2 separate regions of the Homo sapiens genome follow, and region 2 is linked to region 1. Evidence: fine-mapped expression QTL. Tissue or cell type: sun-exposed skin. Region 1 holds a variant in brackets; the other region holds the start of a gene. All regions are shown on one strand. Distances are from middle to middle.

The links. PIP is the estimated chance that this variant, and not a neighbour inherited with it, causes the effect.
Region 2: it holds the start of SLC2A1, and the variant in region 1 is fine-mapped to the expression of SLC2A1 in sun-exposed skin (GTEx, PIP above 0.99). The same link has a PIP of 0.9 or more in unexposed skin.

Annotation. Positions count from the first base shown.
Region 1 is chr1:43,003,314-43,013,955 of GRCh38, reverse strand. No RefSeq gene overlaps it. Among named protein-coding and RNA genes, the nearest start is that of SLC2A1-DT, 50 kb to the right of the region's middle. RefSeq lists enhancers at 4,181-4,888, 4,889-5,597, 5,598-6,305 and a silencer at 5,074-5,368. The variant G/A (reference allele first, on the strand shown) is at 6,374.
Region 2 is chr1:42,953,306-42,963,947 of GRCh38, reverse strand. It overlaps SLC2A1 (solute carrier family 2 member 1), which reads left to right and starts at 5,080. Exons shown (of 10, transcript NM_006516.4): 1 at 5,080-5,314. The coding sequence starts at 5,297. It overlaps SLC2A1-DT (SLC2A1 divergent transcript), which reads right to left and starts at 4,899. Exons shown (of 4, transcript NR_033967.1): 1 at 4,371-4,899. RefSeq lists silencers at 976-1,270, 4,724-4,907, 4,780-5,189, 5,320-5,959 and enhancers at 8,237-8,526, 9,878-10,642.

The DNA.
Region 1 (10,642 bases):
GATCCTTTCCAGAGTGCCTGTTGCTCCTCCGACCCTTTACAGTGGGCGCTGTCCAGGTACTTCTCCCCCACTAAACTGTTTCCCAGGGTGGGCTCTGGTGGCCCTGGGCTCCAATTCATACCTCTAGTCTATTCCTTCCAAACCTAATCTTCTGCCCAGCCCTGTCTCCTGAGCTCCAGATTCATATACCCAGCTGCCCACTCCCCTGTCCATCTGGGCGTCCCATGGGTACTTCAAACCCAACAGATACCAAACTGGACTCATCCCTTTTCCCCCAAAACGGGCTCCTCCTCTCATGTTCCCTGTCAGTTGCTGGCACTACCTGCCACAATTCTGCCTCTGCCTCTCCCCCAGCATCCTGTCAGTCACCAAGAGTTATCTGTCTCTTTTGGCTCATAAATATCTCATGACCTTGCCTCCCTCTCTCCATCCCCAGGCTTTGTCACCATGGCTTACCTGGACCCTACAACAGGCTCCCCCTGCCTGCTGGCCTTTCCAGTCCATCCTCCAAATGGCTACCCCATGATCTTCCTAAATCACAAAGATGATCCTCTTGCTCACCTCTTTAAAGATGTCTGTTGGCTTCTCCACTTCTGCTGGGTAAAGCACGAACTGGCATTCAAGGCCCTTGATGATCTGCCTCTGGCCATATTCTCCAGCCTTATCATGACCGCATGTATTCCACCCTCCAGCCACACCTATGATTTGCCATTTCACAAATGCCCCCCACCTTCATCTAGGTTGTTTATTCTCCTTCCCACCAGTGTCCACTTGAAGCCAGCTCAGGTATCTCCCCCTGCAAGAAGCTCTCCTGACCCTCCTTCCCATGAGTTAACTTCTCCACGTGTGCTCGCCCCCACTTCTCTCATCTGCTCACACTGTATGGTGATAGTCTACCTGCCTGTCTACCCACTAGTTGGTGCAGGGACATGTCTGGGTTCCCAGAGTGGAATCCAGGACCTCACACATGCTCTGTACTCAGTTAATGTTTCCTGGACTGTGCTGAATTGTCACAGTGTGAACCAAGCTGCCATCATTTGCAGTTTACAAATTCATTGCACCATTATTTTTCCACTCTTCTTCATGACACATAGTCAGCTCAAAATATCTTTACACAGCAAGTTTTTTTTTTTTTTCACCTTTGCATTAGATACTTGGAATATACTCCCCAAACTGGTTTCTCTTGGTCAGGGGTTGTACTTAAGTGTGTGGTTTTTATTAGAACTGCTAAATAGTTCTCCAGAAAGATTGTGTTTATTCACATCACCACTATGTATACAGGAAAGGTATGATACCTTTCCTCATCCATCATAAGGTTATTCTTTTTTTTTTTTTTTTTTGAGACGGAGTCTCACTCTGTCACCCAGGCTGGAGTGCAATGGTACGATCTCGGCTCACCGCAAACTCCGTCCCCCAGGCTCAAGCGATTCTCCTGCCTCAGCCTCCCAAGTAGCTGGGATTACAGGCATGCACCACCACACCTGGCTAATTTTGTATTTTTAGTAGAGACAGGGTTTCTCCATGTTGGTCAGGCTAGTCTTGAACCCCTGACCTCAGGTGATTCACCCGCCTCAGCCTCCCAAAGTGCTGGGATTAGAGGCGTGAGCCACCATACCAAGCAAGGTTATTCTTATAATAAAAGACAGATAAACAAGAAAAAAGCACAACAAATTTATTGAATCAAAGTTTTACATGACATAGGAGCCTTCAGAAATAAAGACCCAAAAGCCTAGAGAAAACTGTGTTTTGTGTTTAGGTTCAATGAGGAATGAACAGCCATGTGGAGATGTGATTGGACAAAGGGGCATGACCTCATGGTAATAGACTGAGCAGGGAGATCCAGCAAAGCCTATCCAGATTCTTTTTGGTCTCCTTGCGAAGCATTCCTTCCTGCAGTGTATGGGGCAGGACTGCTCTGGGATGAGGGTCTTCAAGGGGCAAGGGAAAACAGAGAGTGTAACCTTTCTAGATTTTATGGCTGGCTTAGGGGGAGAGAGGTTCTAGTTTCTATGACGTGCTTTGGGGAATAGGAATTCTGTTTTCTCTGATTTGCTTCAAGGGAGAAAGAGGAGCGGGAGACACAGGGCCTGGATATTTTGCTTCTCTTTGAGTTCAAGTACTCAGCATGCCAAAGTGCCATACATTGGGCTATCACGTTCTGAGCCTCAACACCTGCAACACTGCCAGCAGTGGGTTTTACTATTTTTTCATTCATATTTGCTACTTTAACGGGCATGCAGAGGTGATGGTCTCTTCCTTCAGGGAGGCTTCTATAATTCTAGAGAGACAGCTATGGTAGGGTGTGACAAGTGCCATAACAGAGGGGTGGGGTGTGGAGGGTAGCAGAGGAGACTGTGGGAGCCCAGGATGGCAGGGAGAGTCTAATCCAAGTTGTGGGGCTGAAGGAAAACTTCCTAAAGGAGAGGCCAGCTACCTCAGACTAATCAGGCTGATGCCTCCCACTGCCTCCGGTCTTCTATAGCATTCTTACTGCCATTGGCTTTCCTCATCTTATCTCTATCTTCTAGCTACAACAACTCAATGGGAATAGATACTTTTCCCATCTCACAAATGAGGAAACAGAGGCTCACAGGGACCACACAGCTAGAGACGGGGCTAGAACTCAAACCCAGCTCTATGTGATGTCCTTGGGCCAGTGCTCTTCCAGCCGTCCATGTTGATAAGGAACAAGGGACAGATAAGATACTTCCTAGGGATGACCAACCCGGGGAAGGGACTTTTTAGCAATTACCCTCATTCACTACAACCCTGGAGGGTGAGTAATGTCAGCCCCAGTCTATGAAGTCTAAACAACCTCCCCAAGGTCACACTGTGGTGCAAGATAGACTCTCATCCCTACAGAGGACTTCCCCTCCCTGCCACACCCATTTGAGAGGGAGCAAAATTTATGCCCCTCCCCTCTCAATTCATAAGTTGAAGTCCTAATCCCTTGTACCATAGAATATGACCTTATTTAGAGACAGGGTCTTTACAGAGGTAATCAAGTTAAAATGAAGCCGTTAGGGTGGACCCTAAACCAATATGATTGGTATCCTTATAAAAAGGGGACATTTGGGGCCAAGCGCGGTGGCTCACGCCTGTAATCCCTGCACTTTGGAAGGCCGAGGCTGGCGGATCACCTGAGGTTGGGAGTTTGAGACCAGCCTGACCAACATGGTGAAACCCCGTCTCTACTAAAAATACAAAATTAGCCAGGTGTGGTGGCATGCACCTGTAGTCCCAGCTACTTGGGAGGCTGAGGCAGGAGAATCCCTTGAACCCAGGAGGCAGAGTTTGCAGTGAGCCGAGATGGCGCCTCTGCACTCCAGCCTGGGCAATAACAGCGAAACTCCATCTCAAAAAAAAACATACACAAAAAACAAACAAAAAAAATGGCTAGGGGGCACAGAAATTTGGACAAGGAGATGGACGAGCATAGAGGAAAAAAGATGGGAAGAGACACAAGAAGAAACAAGACAAAGAACATGGGAAGCTACCAGAATTCACCTGGCATGTTCCATACCAGAGAGGCATGGAACGGATTCTCCCTTACAGCCCTCCGAAGGAACTAACCCTGCCAATACCTTAATGTAAGACTTCCAGCCTCCAGAACTGTGAGATAATACATTTTTGTTGTTTAAGCCCCTTAATTTGTAGTACTTTGTTATGGAAACCCCAGTAAATTAATAAAGGGAAAACTGCCACCCACCCCCAAAACAGGGGATCCTGAAGATATTTTTGAACAAATAATTTTTGTGATTTCAAATTTGGTAATGTCTTCATTATATTTTTTATTGAAGAAAATTGGGGCCAGGTGTGGTGGCTCACCCCTGTAGTCCCAGCACTTTGGAAGGCCAAGGCAGGTGGATCACCTGAGATCAGGAGTTTGAGACCAGCCTGACCAACATGGTGAAACCCCGCCTCTACTAAAAACACAAAATTAGCTGGGCGTGTTGGCGGGCACCTGTAATCCCAGCTACTTGGGAGGCTGAGGCAGGAGAATTGGACCTGGGAGGCGGAGGCTGCAGTGAGCTGCGATGGCGCCACTGCACTCCAGACTGGGCAATGAGAGTGAAACTTGTCTCAAAAAAAAAAAAAAAAGAAAATTGGGAAAAGATTAGAAAGAATGAAGGAAAAAAGTAAAAACACATGCCCTCTCCCCTTGCTGTTAACATTTTGTTGCATTTCCTCGCATATATATTTCTTTGAATATATATATTCAATATATACATTATATATGCAAAATATATGTATTCAATATATATCTATTTTTTTTTCATGCAGTTACTAGAATCTTCTTTCCAGGGCTGCTGTGATGCTCGAATGGGAGATTGGGATTGGCTCCCAGTCCAGCACCATGCATGGTAGATATTATTTATACAGTTACTGTATAAAATTGGAGTCATGCTGTTTTACAACTTCCTCTTTTCACTTACCAGCTTATCTTCAGTGTTTCCCATGTCTTTCATATTCTTCAAGAACATGACAGTTAATTTCTGCAGTCTTCAGTCTGCGAATGAGGCATAACCTACTTACCCAATTCCCTGTCATTGAACATTTAGAGAATTTCCAGTTTTTCCCAGTTATAAATAAGACTGGGATAAATAATCTTTTATTTTAGGATATGCCCCAGAAACAGAATTGCTAAGTCAAATTCTAATTCTTTTAAAGGCTTTTGTACATACTGTGACATGTTCCTGCAGAAAAGTGGTACAATTTACCTCCTTAGCAGTGAAAAAAGCACTCCCTTTCCCACACCTCACCAACATCTGGTGTTTTCACTTCTATTATCTTGACCAGTTCTATAGATAGGAAAAAGCATACTCTTTTTTTTCATTTGTACTTTGGGATTTCTAGCGTTTTCACAGGTTTTTGTATTTCTTCAGTGAACTACGTTAATCATCCTTTGCGTGTGTCCACTGGTCAGTTCCTCTTATTGTTAAGGGTTTAGCAGGACTTGAAAGGGCCGCTGCAGATGGGAGCCCACGGGCAGCTTCCTCCCCACCCTTCTGACCCTCCTCCTCCCACATTCCCATCCTCTAGAGCTTTCCTTTGCTCTCCAGGGAACCTTTGTCATTCAAACAGGCCGCTGCTTCCCAGGGCCCTGGGAAAGCCACCTCCGGAGGCCCTCTCCACTTTTGACTGCTTTCCCTCCGGAGCCCCACATTCCTGCCTCACCTCTCCCCACGCCCTGCACATCCTCCCTCGAAATTCTTCAAGGAGGCCCAAAGCCACAGGGGACCCAGCCCCTGGCCTAGCCCTAGAGCAAGAATCCCAACCCCGCCCTGCTCCAGCTTGAAAGCAGGAGAGACGGGGCTAGGTGGGGAGGAACATCTGTCCTTGGGGGAAGGCCTGGGAGAGAAAGGCCACAGCACGCGGTGGAAGAAAGAACCCGTCTTTGATGTCTTGTGAAGTCTGACGTCATTCTAGAACCAAGGTCAAATCCCAGGCCAGCCACTTTCGGGCCACATCGCATCACTAGTTTGCAGGGCTGCAGTGAAGGTCAAATGTAACTTACATGTAATGCTTCTGGAACAAAAAGTCAGGTGAACTGATTACCGCAAAGCCCCAAGGATCAGGCACGGCTTCTCCAGGAGAGATGGCCCTTGGAGAGGCCGGCTTTGCCCTAGTGGCTGGAGAGTGTATCCGGCAGAAGGGGCAGCCTAGGAAAAGGCTGGGAGGCCAGGGGTACCGGGTGTGCAGTGTGGCTGGGCATGGACACGCGAATGAAGGGCCTCAGGGCACACACGGAGTCCCGAGAGGGAAGCTCAGACATCAGCCCAGACGGTGGACGGGACTCCACGCTAGACTTGGGAGACCTCGGTTTCCATCCCTATCGGTCTCCAGCTTCACTCATCCTATCACCCACAGAAGACTTTCCTGGGCGGCCAGGCAGTATGCCGGCCCCACCCAGGACCTGGAGGGGTTCAAAGACAAGCGATCAGGGCAAAGCGGGTGCCCCAGGGAGAGTGATTAAAACTGGGAATCAGCGGAGGCTTCTGAGAAGCAGCCTTTGAACTGGGCCTTAGGGTGCGACTGAGGGTGGGGAAGGCGGCCATTGCAAGCAGGGGGGTCGCAGGGGACGGGAAGGCGAAGTCTGGCTTCTTTGAGGGTGGCCGAGCAAGGAAAGGGGCGAGATGAAGTGGGCGAAGGGCGCTAGGGCCCCGACCCCAAAAGCCCACGCAGGAGAGGGGTGCCAGAGTCCAGCTTCACAAAGACCCGCCTGGAGCTGCCGCAGCCCCAGGCCCGGGAATGTGGGGCGGGGACGGGGAGGGGAGGGGAAGGAGGGGGCCGCGGGCCGGCAGCACGTAGCGCTCGTAGGCCGGGCGCGCCAGGGCAGGTAACAAAGCTGCCAGTGTGCCGGCGGCGGGGC[G/A]GGGCTGCCCGATACCTGTCTGGCGGGGGGCCGGGGCCCCAAAGGGGAGGGCAGCGGGGGCTGCTGGGCACAGTAGGCCGCGGCCTGCGCTCTGCCGAGCCTTCCCCTGCCGCAGCCTCCCCAGCGGAGCCGCAGCCCGAGAAAAGCGACACAGTCGGTTTTGCAGACTAGATGCCCGAAGCCCAGACACTAATAGGGCCTGGCCCGGGGTCGCGCAGGAGTCGTGAGATGCACAGCTCTGTGCCAAGGAGGGCTGGCGAGGAAATCCTCACCCAGGTCCCGGCCACATGCTCGTTCGCTGGGTGGGGCGGGGAGTCTGCCCCAGGCTTCTGAGCGGAGTTGGAATTCGGATGCATGGATATTCGGGTGCACGGCTCTGCGCCCCGTAATTTCTTCTCTAAGAGGCGAGAAGAGTCCCCCTAGACGGGCTGATCTCCAAGTGGCTCTTTCCAACAAGGTTAAAAAGCAGTCTTGTCGGCCGGGCATGGTGGCTCACGCCCGTAATCCCAGCACTTTGGGAGGCCGAGGCGGGCGGATCACGAGGTCAGGAGATTGAGACCATCCTGGCCAGCACGGTGAAACCCTGTCTCTACTAAAAAATACAAAAAATTAGCCGGGCGTGGTGGCGGGCGCCTGTAGTCCCAGCTACTCAGGAGGCTGAGGCTAGAGAATGTTGTGAACCCGGGAGGCGGAGCTTGCAGCGAGCCCAGATCTCGCGACTGCACTCCAGCCTGGGCAACAGAGCAAGACTCCGTCTCAAAAAAAAAAAAAAAAAAAAAAAAAAGGCAGTCTTGTCCACATCAAAGGAAGCGAGGAGGGCTGGCCTGATGGAGGTTGGGGGCCACCAGAGCCTCCGCACCCCATCTGTGGCGTCACCGTCGCGGGTTCCCTACTACAGGATGCCTCCATGGAACTCACTATCCCCGTGCGCGTGCCCGTACGTGTGGTCCCACAGACCTGTCCACGCCTGACCTCACACACGTGCACAGGTCGGCTTGTGCTCCCCACACGCAAGAGATCCTGTCAAGGGGTGCTGGAGAGTGAACCCTAGAATGACCCTTTGAGATCCTTCTTGCTCTTCCCCCACCCCTTTCGCCGGGGTCCTTTGTCCTCTGTGCAGGGCAATCCAGGGGCAGATGGAAGAAAAGAATTGGGTCAGACTCTTAGGGAACAAAGACACTTTGGGAGGGAAGTGTCCTCTCTACTGGAATCAGCTGCCCTCCCCCAGGGACCCCACAGCTCAGTCCTTTGCAGAGGAATCCTCCATCCCCCCACCAAAGCTAACAAATGGGCAAGACCACCCAGGATAGAGAGGGGGAGCAGAGAGCTAAGAGGCCAGGCCCCCATCCCAGCGTTTGGGCGTGGAGGTGGCTGCCTCATTAGTACCGTGGGGCACGGGGTGGCTGATGGCTGTGCTCCAAGGCCCTCAGTCCCGACTGCTTTGGAGCTTATCAGCCGACCTGGGGATAGGGGCCGACATGGCCACGCCCTCTCCCCTACCCTGGCAGCCTGGCCTAGAGCCCCCATTCCTGGAAAGGGAGCCCTGAGAGCAGCAGAGAGAGGCTCTGAGGCGCCGAATAGTCTGGCCCAGTCTCCTCTATGTCAGCTAAAGAGAAATGAGACCAGGCCCCTGCCCTGGAGGTGTCGAGGGCGCTGAGCAACAGGCACAAACACAGATGCAGACGGGCTACAGCCCCAGGTGCTCAGTGCTCAGACCAGTGTTCAGAAAGATTAGATGGATAAGCGGATGAGTGAATGCACGTCCATGAATTCATTTGGATAGAAAACCCTAGGCACTCCCAGGCTGGGGCTTCTTGCAGTTTGTCACTGCTCTGACCCTAGTGTGGTCAGACTGCAGCTCCCCTGGGCCAGGAAACCCTCTGATTCGACTCCCAGCCCAAGGCCTGACATTTACAAGGTAGTCAAGCTGTGCTTCCTGAAAATCCAGAGTAGCATGCTGATGTGTCCACCTCCCCACCAAACAGTACTCCTTGCACGTATCTTCAGGTATGGCTCAGATTCCTTCCCCCGTCTTCCATCCCAATATCCCCTATAGGGTAAGCAAACTGTGACAAAAGACAAATACCAGAATGAAGGCAGGCCTGGTCACTTCTTGGCTATGTGCATCTGAGCAGTCATTTCTCTCTCTGACCCTTAGTTTCCTTATCGGTAAAATGGAGGCAAAGATGCCTTTTCCACTTGATGGGATTGGGGTCACGTGCAGCACTACCCCTCCCCCTCAGCTCCCTCCTCAGCACCCAGGGCTCTTTGTTCAACCTGTACATGCTCTTACCTACTTCTCCCTTTTTATCTGCATCTATACCTGCACTAGTGGCTCCCCAAGGGCGATGGCCTCCATCTCTCTGTGCCACTACTGCCCAGCATTGCCCAACATATGCTTCAGCACATGCCCATGGAAGTCAGTGTTGGTGGAATGGTAAGCAATGAGTGAAAACATTTTGTTAACCAGAGAAGGCTGTGCGAATACGAGGGCTTGTGTCATGATAATATTTTAAATCACAGTAGTTTAGGACTTGAACATAATCTTACAGATTAACTGAGTTCTCCCATTTGACAGATGAGGAAATTGAGGCCCAGAATGTGAAACAGACTGCCAGTGATCACTCACAGAGGTTGTCCAGCTTGGACCTTGATATGCTTTGGCTGTGTCCCCACTCAAATCTCATCTTGAATTGTAGTACTCATAATCCCCACGTTTCATGGGAGGGACTAAGTAGAGATAATTGAATCATGAGGGTGGTTTCCCCCATCCTGTTCTCAGGATAGCATGATAGTGAGTTAGTTCTCATGAGATATGATGGTTTCATAAGGGGCTTCCCCCTTGGCTGGGCACTCACATCTCTCGCCAGAGACCATATAAGACGTGACTGTTTTGCCTTCTGCCGTGATTGTAAGTTTCCTGAGGCCTCCCTAGCCATGCAGAACTGTGAGTCAATTAAACTTCTTTTCTTTCTTTTTTTTTTTTTGAGATGGAGTCTCACTCTGTCGCCCAGGCTGGAGTGCAGTGGCACGAACTTTGCTCATTGCAACCTCTGCCTCCCTGGTTCAAGCGATTCTCCTGCCTCAGGGTCTTGAGTAGCTGGGATTACAGGTGAGCACCACCACGCCCGGCTAATTTTTGTATTTTTAGTAGAGACGGGATTTCACCATGTTGGCCAGTCTGGTCTCGAACGCCTGACCTTGTGATCCGCCTGCATTGGCCTCCCAAAGTGCTGGGATTACAGGCTTAAGCTGCCGCACCTGACCACGTTTTTTCTTTATAAATTACCCAGTCTTGAGTATGTCTTCATAGCAGCATGAAAACAGACTAATACGGACCTCAACTGAAGTATCTTAACTCCCAGGAGAGAGGGGCCTCCCTATAGACACTCCTCTCTGCATGGCTTCAGCCAGTGCAGACAAGGGTAAGCCAGTACTTGGAACCCTGTCTCCCAGTGACTGCCTTCCCCAAGAGATCTGACAGCCATGAATGCATCCGGGGTTCCTGAGGGCCAAAGACAGGGTGCTGTTTTAAAGATGCTGTGAACGCTCAGTGTGCACTTACAGTAGAAGGCAGAGGCAGTGACAGCAGCAAGGCAGAGCTGGAATCTTCACTGTAGGTTTCCCACTGTCATTCCCAGGACAGTGGAATCAGTATGGATTTCAGAGTCACACCAACTTGGCTTTGAATCCTGACTCTGAAACCCATTAGCTGGGCGAGTTTCTTGGGCAAGTTATTTCATCTATGAGCCTCAGTTTCTTCACCCATAATTCCATAATATTGGAATATGAATTCCTATCTGATAATCCAGTTGAGACGACTCAGTAAGAACATAAGCAAAAGCATCTGAGTCCAGAGTAAGAAGACCATCTCTTCCCTTCCTACCTTCAGTTTCCCCTCTACTTCCAGGATGGAATAAGGAAAGATTCCTGGCTGCTGCCCCTTCCACCACAGTCTAGAAGCCATCATAAGGAGGATAGTAGTGTGGGGTGGTGAGGTTTGGGGGAAGCCAAAAGTGGTACCTCAAAAGATATCCACATCATTATGTTGGGCATGGTGGCTCACACCTGTAATCCCAGCACTTTGGGAGGCTGAGGTGGGAGGATCACTTGAGCCTATGAGGTCAAGACCAGCCTGAACAACATAGTGGGCAACATAGTGAGATGCTGTCTCTACAAAAAATTTAGTTATTAGCTGGGTGTGCTGATGGTGCCTGTTGTCCTAGCTACTCAGGAAGTTGAGGCAGGAGGATCACTTGAACCCAGAAG
Region 2 (10,642 bases), 50 kb after region 1:
AGTCATATTAAAGCTCGAGGCAAAAGGAAAAAACATCAGTACTGCTGATCTGGTCTCCACCTGCCTCACCCTGATTACCAGCACCCGCCCCCAGAGTCGCGACCCTCCCTTCCAAGGGTAACTACTGTTACCCCGGAGATAAGTTTTGCCTGTTTTTAAACTTTATACACATGACATCACACTCTTTCGCACAGCTGCTATCACTCAATATGTCTGTGAGATTCAGCCACATTATTGCGTGCCATGGAAAGATGTTTGAACAAAGCAGTGATGTGGTCAGCTGTGCATTTTAAAGAGACCAGTGTGGTGGCAGGGAGGAGGATGAATGAATAGTGGTCCTAGCCTATGCTGGAGGAGGGACTGTCTGCATGGAGAGGGCAGGCAGAGTCCACGGGATGGGCAGGCAAAGTCCACGGGATTGACTGGATATGGGGAATGAGGGAGACAGAGAGGGGTCAGGGAAGATACCAGATCTCTGGCTAGGGCAATTTGGTGGCTAGAGGAGCCATTTCTAGGGTGGGGACAGGAAGGGATGGGCAAAGATAATGAGTTCAGGTTTGAGCATGGTGAGTGTGAGGGACCTGTGGGACATCCAGAGGGACATCCTGGAGGCAGCTGGACAGAAAAGCCTGGTAGTCAGGAGAGAAGGGAGGGGAGTATGTGCCTTCAATTCCCCCAGCATCAGCGAGCAGGTGGTAGCCCTGATAAGTGCATTTGCAGAGGGTCGGAGGGCATACAGAAGATAAAGAAGGGATGCCGAAAAGCTTTCTGAAAGCAGGTGGTTCAAGCAGATGTGCAAATCAGAATGAAAACATTAAACACACAAAACTGTCCTGCCTGGCCCATCAGACCTTCCTGGAATCCATCACTGTGTTTACCTGCAATCCAGGAGGATTTGAATTGCAAAACACCCTTTGGATTAGGGGGGCTTCCGTCCCAGCCCCTGCTATCCCCTCTTGTACCAATTGTAGCTGACTCAGCAAAACCTTTCCTCCTGGCTGCCAGGGACGCTTGCCTTTAAAGGCAACAGAGTCTTTTCCCAGCCCGCCTTACTCACTCCTAACTCTGGAGCTGCTAGGACCCGCCCTGCACGGCCCTGCCACCACCACCATCACCACCACCACCCCTCCCCCACCCACTTGCGTGCTCTGAGGCACACACTAGGCTCCAGCATCCGCCTGGCACCTGACACCTCCCTGCTAGCCAGTCCCAGAGAGCTCTTTTCCTCCAGACTAGCTGGGGCTGGAACTGCTTAGAATCGGACCCAGAAGAGGCCGAGTTCCGTCCAGGACTAAAGGCAGCCTCCAGGGAATAAAGCTGTCAGTGTGGGCGCAGACTAGGGAAGGGGCACTAGGTCGTTCAAGCTGAATGCTGGGGTTCCACAGCCTCCTCACACCCCCTTTAGTGCCTCAGGTAGAGTAGGCTTGTGGGGACACTGAGGTTTCCTCAGGTCCTTTCCCTGCTCAATAACTCTCCATGGCTCGCCACTACCCACTGCATAAAGCCCTAACTCCTATACCTGGCATTTGGGAGCCTCTGTGATTCCACTTCTTCAGTCTCTTCTCCTCCCTAAGCCCCCATGCCCCAGCCACAGGGGCTACTTAGGTGCCCCTCCTGCTCCCCTTTCCCCTTGCACCCAAACCTTCTCTGCTCATGTGCTATTTCCTGGGGCCTTCTCTAGGGCTCATTCCCTAGTTGGAGTTAAATTCTGCTTCCAAGGAATCAGCCACCCAAATAACAAACCAGTCCACCTGAGAATCTAGTCTGTGATGCAGCGTCAATAGCTTCTGATGAATTTGCTTCTGACCAGTAGCCTCCAGGGGTCATAAAACATTCACAGAGAGGAACACAGAGAAGGTAATGGGGGTCTGTGTGTGGGCAGGTGGGGTGGGGTGGGTGAAGGAAAAGCTTTTTTTTGGCCACTGTGCTTTTTCCTCAAGCACCGCCCTACCATGGGATGGGGATTTGACTGAACTTCTCACGTCAAGAATGAGTACAGTTTACATAGCTAAGCCTTTATAAACATCCACTTTCCCTCAGGCCTACCCAGGAAGGGTTTGTTATATCTATTTTACAGATGTGGGTCTTCAGGCTCAGAGAAGAGAAGGCATTGTTTGCCCATGAATGTTTGCAAGTAAATAGCAGAGCTGGGACTCAAAGAGTCCGGATCTGGGGCTCCATCATGAATCTCTAAGAGTGGCCCAGAGATTCTCACGTTCCCTAGGTAATCATTCTGGCAGTCTGCTGCCTTTGCACATGCTCTTCTCTCTGCTGAGAATGGCCTTCCCTCAATCCATCTGGTGAACTCCTATTCAGTCTTCCAAACCCTGCTTAGCATGACCTCCCCCTTCCCAGATGCTCTCTCTACTCACTCTCCTTCCCCTGTGGTACAAGTTCTGCACCTGTACAGATTCTTAACCCTCTACGCTTGACTTGGTATTGTTGCTGCTCATTTCCCCTCTTGCTCCTCCTCCAGCTTGGGGCCTCCATGAGGCTAACAATGGGGTCACATGTCTCTGTCCCTGGGAAAGTGGCCAGCATGGGGCTGGCCCAGAGAAGGACAAGGTGGCTGTTTGGTGAGTGTGACCCATGGGCTGAGTAAGGCAGACCCGCAACTGGGAAAAGGCATAGACTGGATGTGCTAAGAAACAAGGAGCTGTGGAGAGACTTTGAGGAGGGAAGTAGCAAAACCCAAAAGGTACTTAAGGAAAGACTGGAAGTATCAGCAGGACGGACTGGAGGGGAAGGAACATTCAACACAGGTAGATTAGCTGCTCACTCATTCGTGCATTCCTTCCCTCCTTCAGTCATTCACCCACGTGCCTCAGCTGCAGAACCTGTCCTCAAGGTGCTCACAGGCTGAGGGAAGGCAGACAGAGGACAAGTGGCAACCTACAAAACACCAAATGGTAAAGGAGAGAAAGATTTCCACTTGGGAGAACCAGGGACACTTCCCGGAGGAGGAAGGACCCATGGTGCTTTTTGGCATGGTGAGGTCGGGGAGGGCTTCCCAGGCAGAGGAGACAAGCTGAGCAAATGTGTGGATGTGAGTTGCTGGTGTGAGGGGCGAGGCTGAGCGTGTAAACTGGTGCCATGAAGAAGGACCGTGATGGCCAGGCTTGGCCCTTACTCCCTCCATGACAATTTCAGACAGATGAGCAGGAGAGTGGCAGGGTGCAGGACTGGAGGACAAAAGACCAGAGGAGATGGAGGCCCTGCAGACAGCAGGGGAGGGAAGGAGGATGAGGTGGTGTAGACAGCGGAGTCAGCAGGACTTGGTCTGTCCAGGGGTGAGGAGAGAGGTGGCCCAAGCTTTCCAGGCTGAGCATAGAGAGACCACAGGAATTGAAGCCTTGGGCAGGGGGGTGCCCAGAATGCACCTGCCTTCTGTTTCAGGGCTCCATACTCAACCAAGGTGCCCCTCAGCCAGAACTGGACACATTGCCAGAGAACTCCAGGGGTCATCTGGTCGGCTCAGCCTCCCGGTTTCCGACAGACAGTAAGCCCACCATGACTCCCTCCATCGGGAAAGGGACCCTCAAGACTTTGATCAGACCTTTGGACTGGGGGTCCTTCCCTTCACTGTGTCTCAAGTAAGGCACTGGTCTAGAGGAAATAAGGTGAAGTCAGATGATAGCAATACCACTACCAGTGCAGTGGCACATGCCTGCACTCCCAGCTACTACGGAGGCTAAGGTGGGAGGATCACTTGAGCCCAGGAGTTTGAGACCAGCATTTATTTATTTACTAACAGACTAAATAAATAAACCAACAATACCACCAACCAGTAAATGAGAACTTCCATGCTAAACACTTCATGAGCTTATCTGGAAATTGCACCTCTCCTGATAGCAATGAGATTGGTGTGGGAATTCCATTTACTCATAAGAAGACAGCCTCGGCCGGGCTCAGTGGCTCACGCCTGTAATCCCAGTACTTTGGGAGGCGAGGTGGGTGGATCACGAGGTCAAGAGTTCAAGACCAGCCTGGCCAAAATGGTGAAACCCCGTCTCTACTAAAAATAAAAATAATTAGCCAGGGGTGATAGCGGGCGCCTGTAATCCCAGCTACTCGGGAGGCTGAGGCAGAGAACTGCTTGAATCCGGGAGGCGGAGGTTACAGTGAGCCGAGATCGTGCCGCTGCACTCCAGCCTGGGCGACAGAGCGAGACTCTGTCTGAGAAAAAAAAAAATTAAAGAAAAAAACGAAAACAGCCTCACTGGCCAGGAACTCGCCCAGGATCGCGGCCGGGCCAGTATACAGTTGAGCTGGTTCAAACCCGAGGTCTATCATGTCCTTAATGTCCTATCATGTCAGTCAGTTAGCCTGCCTTTCATATTTTCCACACTTACAGGTCACCATAGACTCACCTGAACTGTGAGAAGTAGAGGAAGGCGTCCCAGAGGAGGTGATTTTAAAGCCCAGGTTTGAGATGGGTATGCATTTCCAGGCAAGAGAGCCCGGCCGGTGCAAAAGCAAGGCTTGGCTCACAAACGGGAATGTGGGGGGTGGAGACAGGGAAGGGAGAAGTCAATCCCTGGGCAAGACCTCCTGGAGTCTCTCTAACAAATAAATACTACTTTCCATGCAGTAGACGCTGTTCTAAACACTTTACAAATATTAACTCACTTGGTCTTTCTACAACCCTACGAGGTGGTACTGTTACTATCCCTAGTGCACCGAAGTCACCCAGCGGCCGAGTGAGAACTCCAGTCCAGCTTTCCACCCGCTACTCCGCGCATCCCAGCTTGCCTTACAGCCGGGTACCGGCTCCACCATTTTGCTAGAGAAGGCCGCGGAGGCTCAGAGAGGTGCGCACACTTGCCCTGAGTCACACAGCGAATGCCCTCCGCGGTCCCAACGCAGAGAGAACGAGCCGATCGGCAGCCTGAGCGAGGCAGTGGTTAGGGGGGGCCCCGGCCCCGGCCACTCCCCTCACCCCCTCCCCGCAGAGCGCCGCCCAGGACAGGCTGGGCCCCAGGCCCCGCCCCGAGGTCCTGCCCACACACCCCTGACACACCGGCGTCGCCAGCCAATGGCCGGGGTCCTATAAACGCTACGGTCCGCGCGCTCTCTGGCAAGAGGCAAGAGGTAGCAACAGCGAGCGTGCCGGTCGCTAGTCGCGGGTCCCCGAGTGAGCACGCCAGGGAGCAGGAGACCAAACGACGGGGGTCGGAGTCAGAGTCGCAGTGGGAGTCCCCGGACCGGAGCACGAGCCTGAGCGGGAGAGCGCCGCTCGCACGCCCGTCGCCACCCGCGTACCCGGCGCAGCCAGAGCCACCAGCGCAGCGCTGCCATGGAGCCCAGCAGCAAGGTGAGTCGCGCGCCCGCGGGCCCTCCCGCCAGGAACAAAGGCGCAGACTCCTGCCCGCCTTACGCCGGCCAGGGCCTCCCCCGCCGCCCCGCTGCGCTGTGCGCCCGGGGCGGGCCGCGCGCCTCTCCGAGCCTGGCTCGGTGCGGGTCCCGAGCGCAGCGCCCCGCCGGGCCGCTGGCCGCAGTGGGGATGGGCTTCGGATCTAGCGGGCCGGAGGGCGCCGCGTGCGTAGTTGGCGCCGGCACTGAGCACATGGCCTCCTTCCGGGGGCGCCGCGCCGTCCACGCGGCCCTGCTGGGGCTGGGGACACAGGGCCCGGGAGCGGCACGTCGCACACGACCTCGGCAGCAGCAGCCCAGCCTCGGCCCCTCCCGGTGCGGGGGAGGGGGCCCGAGCGCGGCGCCCATTGGCTGAGCGGGCCGAGCCCCCGGCCCGGCCCCGGCCCCGGCGCGCGGAGGAGTCAGGAGCCGCCCCCGCTCTCCGTCTGCTCCCCTAGCCCGGACGCCCCTGTAGGTGGGCGGCCTGGTGCGAGGTGTCCCACCGGCCTCCCCTACTCCTCCCGCCAGTCCCCCGCGGTGACGAGGCCGAGGCCGAGGGGAGGGCACTTTTCTCCAGGCCCGGGCTCGAACGCGGGGGTTGAGATGAACCTCCGGTCTCGGAGGCTCTCCTTTGCGAGGAGTGCAGGCCCCAAAGCTTTGGCCCAGTCTCGCGGAGATGTGTTCCGCGGAGGCAGGTTTACCCTCGGGGCCAGGCGGGGAGCGCAACCGGAGGGGCGGGGGATCTGGGGGCCAGGAAAGAGCCCCAGGCTGAAGTCTAGCGGGAAGCGCGCACGCCACGGGGTTGGGGAATGAGGGATGGGGACTCTGGGGACCAACAACTCCCTAGATAGGATTTCTTTTTTTCTGTGTAAGTGGGCTTGTCCTGCAGGGCATCTTTGTAGCGTCCGCAGAGCGATTTCTTTTCAACAAATTGTTTGTGGAGCCCCTCCTGTGTGTAGGGCATTGTTTCTTTCCACCTCCTTTCCTCCCCCTAGTCTACAATATTTTCAAGTCCCCTTTTTCTTTTGAAACGGTCCCTCTTTATCTATTATACTTTGATTTTTCCATCTCGTCAGCTGGGAGGGCACCTGGATGGCCCTTGTTTTCTTAGCTGGGACGCGGGGGTAGCACTGAATTTTGAACTGCCCTTCCTACTGGCTGTGGAGGTGTCCCGCTGAGACTGAGCGGGGTGGCGCTGGGCCGCACCCTCGGCAGGAAAAGGCCTTCCGCCCCACACCTGTTGAATCCATAAATCCAGACGACTTGGTTCACCCTTCCTGGGCCCTCGCTTGAGGTGAGACCCCGGGGAAGTTCCCGGGGAAGGCTCCCAGGATCTTAGGTGAGCCGTAAGGGTGGGATATAACTAAACAAAAGTTCAGTGAGAAGCTCTTCTAGCTAGTGGCAAGGAAGTCCAAATATCTCAGGGCTCTTGCAGGCCACTTAACTTCTGGGCCTCAGTTTTTCCATCTGAAAGAGATCACTTTTGTCACTTCCTCTAGGGAAGGAACTATCTATTCAGCATACTATGCCAGACATGGGTATTTATTTGTTGAGTGGATAAGGGAATACTACGTGGAGACAGAAAAGTGGAGGAGAAAATCAGCAGGTTCTTAGCCAAACTACTTTAAGCGTCACGGACCTTATAGCCCTGCTGGTTACTCACTAGCCTGGAGCTCAGAGAAGGGAAATAAGTTTGCCAAAGTCACACAGCTAGTAAGTGGTTGAACTGGATTTGAACCCAGGCCCATCAGATTTAATTTCATTTCTGTCTCCACTGTCTCTCTTCACCACAACATTTCTTGAATTTTGGGCAGAAGGGAGAGAGTTTGCCTATCTTCAAAGGTGGCCCCTTGTGCCAGCTGGTTCTAAATAGTGTAGCAGGTGGGTGCTCTTCATGGAGTGTTCTCCAAGTTTTCCACTGTCTACCTCGTCAGTAATTAATGTTGGAACACCTCTTTCACAGTGGTGTATCTGTATTTTTATTTTTTTATTTTTATTTATTTATTTTTTGAGACGGAGTTTCGCTTTTGTTGCCCAGGCTGGAGTGCAATGGCGCGATCTCAACTCCCTGCAACCTCTGCCTCCCGGGTTCAAGCGTTTCTTCTGCCTCAGCCTCCCGAGTAGCTGGAATTACAGGCATGTGCCACCACACCCAGCTAATGTTTTTTTTTTTTTTTTTTTTTTTTTTGTAGTTTTAGTAGAGACGGGGTTTCTCCATGTTGGTCAGGCTGGTCTCGAACTCCCGACCTCAGATGATCTGCCCGCCTCGGCCTCCCAAAGTGCTGGGATTACAGGCCTGGGATTACAGGCGTGAGCCACCACGCCCGGCTGTATTTTTAAATTCATGCACATGCAGTTTGATACTAACAGATGATATGCCTTCATAAAATAGAAATTTCAAAAGACAGATAGATACAAGACAGCAGTTATAGTCATTTTCCCCTCCAAATCTTGTGTAGATCATTCCATATACATTCTGGAATAAAGCCCTTCCCTTTGGAGACTGCTGATTTGACCTGCAAGCACAGCCTTTTTGTGCATGATGTTAGAGGCCTGGGGAGGTCATATCGCTTGCCTTTCACACAAGATCTGAAAACCAGGTGTGTCTGGCTCCAAAGCCTTGGTTCTGCTATGTTCCTCTTTGTCTCCTAGGAAATGGGAACTGACTTAACTAACTTCCCCGTGTTCCATTGTGCTCCTCTGTAACTCACAGTAATGAGCTTAGCTGAATAGGAAGTAGGGGACAGATGGAATCACCTTGCCTACAAGCCAGGGGTTCGCCCACGATCTCTCCTGGGCAGCACGCAAGGGTGAGCCCTGCCCCAGATGTCTCACCCCACCCTTCGTGAAGAACTTGTAACTAGCCTTGCCTATGCCCATCACTCATCACTTTTCTGGCCAGTCTCTACCTTCCAGAAAAGGAAAAATCAGAAATCTGCAGGCTTTCTCAGCCCCTTTGTGGTGCAGACAGCATAGTTTTTTGTTTTTTGTCTTTTTTTGAGACGAGGTCTCACTCTGTCACCCAGGCAAGTATCTTGGCTTACTGCAACCTCTACCTCCCAGGCTCAAGCGATTCTGTCACCTCAGCCTCTTGAGTAGCTGGAACCACAGACATGCGTCACCGTGCCCAGCTAAATTTTTGTATTTTTGGTAGAGACAGGGTTTCGCCATGTTGCCCAGGCTGGTCTCGAACTCTTGAGCTCAGGTGATCCGCCCACTTCAGCCTCCCAAAGTGTTGGGATTACAGGCGTGAGCTACCGCACCCGGCCAAACATAGATGTTTGCATATGTGGTTTTGAATCCCAGCTTAGCTTAGTTGCCCAGTTTTCATCATTACAGTGTCTAGGAATTCAGAAAAGAATGTACGTCTCTGTCCCCATAGATGCTCCATAAATATTTCTTGCTTCCTTGGACTCCCATGATGCCTTACCTGGGCTGTGGGTGACTTGTACCTGGGCCTTGGCCTTTATCCAAAAGCTGGCATTCTGGCAGTATGAGCTTTTGGGGAGTCAGGATGCTGGCCCATGGGTATTAAGTCAGGTAAATCATTAAAGCTCCCACTAACCCATTCTTCCTAGTAGGGGCTTGTTGGGAAGTGAGTAGGCATGGCACATGGGTGAGAGTGCCAGGCCAGGGAGGGTCAGCTCATGTGAGTGCCCTGCGCTGCTTTGGGCTTCTTTGCTTTGCTTTTTTGCCTTAGGCTTCCTGCCTACCTTTCTGAATTTGGGTCACCCTTGGGATAGTTTGAAAGGGACATTCATGTCCATTAACTCCAAGGGTCCTCACAACTGCCCTGTGATACAAGTTACAGTGACCTCATGGTCCAATAAAAAATGACTTTGCCAAGATCACACACTGAGCCTCCCACCCCAAGACATGCTGCCAGCCTTTCCAGGATGACATTAGAGGGTGGAAGGAACCCAGAGCAGGAGGGGCCTTCCAGCCATGGCCCAGCCCTCCATTTGACAAATGGGGAAATTGAGTCCAGAGAAGGGAAGAGATTTGTCCGAGATAAGGCTATCACAAAAGATTTGAGGCGTTCTATGGAGCTGTGTTTTGTTTTGATTTTTGAGACGGAGTTTCGCTCTTGTTGCCCAGGCTGGAGTGCCATGACACAATCTCAGCTCACCACAACCTTCGCCTCCCAGGTTCTAGTGGTTCTCCTGCCTCAGCCTCCCGAGTAGCTGGGATTACAGGCATGTGCCACCATGCCCGGCTAATTTTTTTGTATTTTTTTTTAGTAGAGATGGGGTTTCTTCATGTTGGTCAAGCTGGTCTCGAACTCCAGACCTCAGGTGATCCGCCCACCTCGGCCTCCCAAAGTGCTGGGATTACAGGTGTGAGCCACCGCGCCTGGCCTAGCTGTGTTTTTTTTTTAAAGATGCTTTCTTCTCCACATGCCTGTCTGTGCCATCCTCCACCCACCCCAAATGAGCAGGAATCCCCAGACACAGGACTTGCCATGCCATAGGAGCCTGAAAGTTGGATTAGACGTAACTTGACAACTGAAACTCTACTGTGAATGGAAACAAAACACTAGATGTTCCCACTAAACTCTGACCTTGAAGAAGTGGCTTTCCTTGGAGCCTTGGTTTCCTTCTCAGTAAATAGAGACTTGGCTACCCCCAGTGGATGTGGTGAGACTGGCCCCGTGCCCTAAATTAGAGAAGTGGCTATTTTAAGTGGAAAGACCCTTTGTAAGGCCAGTCTGGGTGTACAAATGATGTAAACAGCCCCAAGATGATCCTTGTCTAGTACCGAGCCATCCAGGGATTCGACCCTATTTGCCCCGGAGCTGGGCCAGCCTCAAATCCCCCGTAATCAGCTTGTGACTTCAAGGAGCTCAGCTTTGCCCAGTGCCTCCTGGTCACGGGGTGTCGGCCCAGAGCTCTGCTCAAGTACCAAGGGTACAGCCATCCAGCTCCCTGCTTCCCCAAGACTGGCAAAGCTGGGGAGGCCTGGAACAAAGAGGAAAGTGTGCAGTGTTGGCTTGGGGCCTGCAACCTCACCCCTTCCCCCACCTCACTCCTGGGCATAAAGGTGATAAAGCCGCTCACTCAGTCTGCAGTCTGGTAACCGACGTCCCCATGATGGCGGAGGCTGGGAGGCCTCCTGACCAGATTCATGGGCTCAGAGAGGCTGTGTCCAGGCCTGCAGGCCCAGCCCTGGCTACCCTAACAAGCCTCCAATTGTTACCTCTCTCCACGGGAGGGGTGGACTGGAGCCTGAGGCTCTGTCTTCCAGCCACCAGGCCTGGCAGTAGCTGATGCATAAACATTAGGGTTTTGCA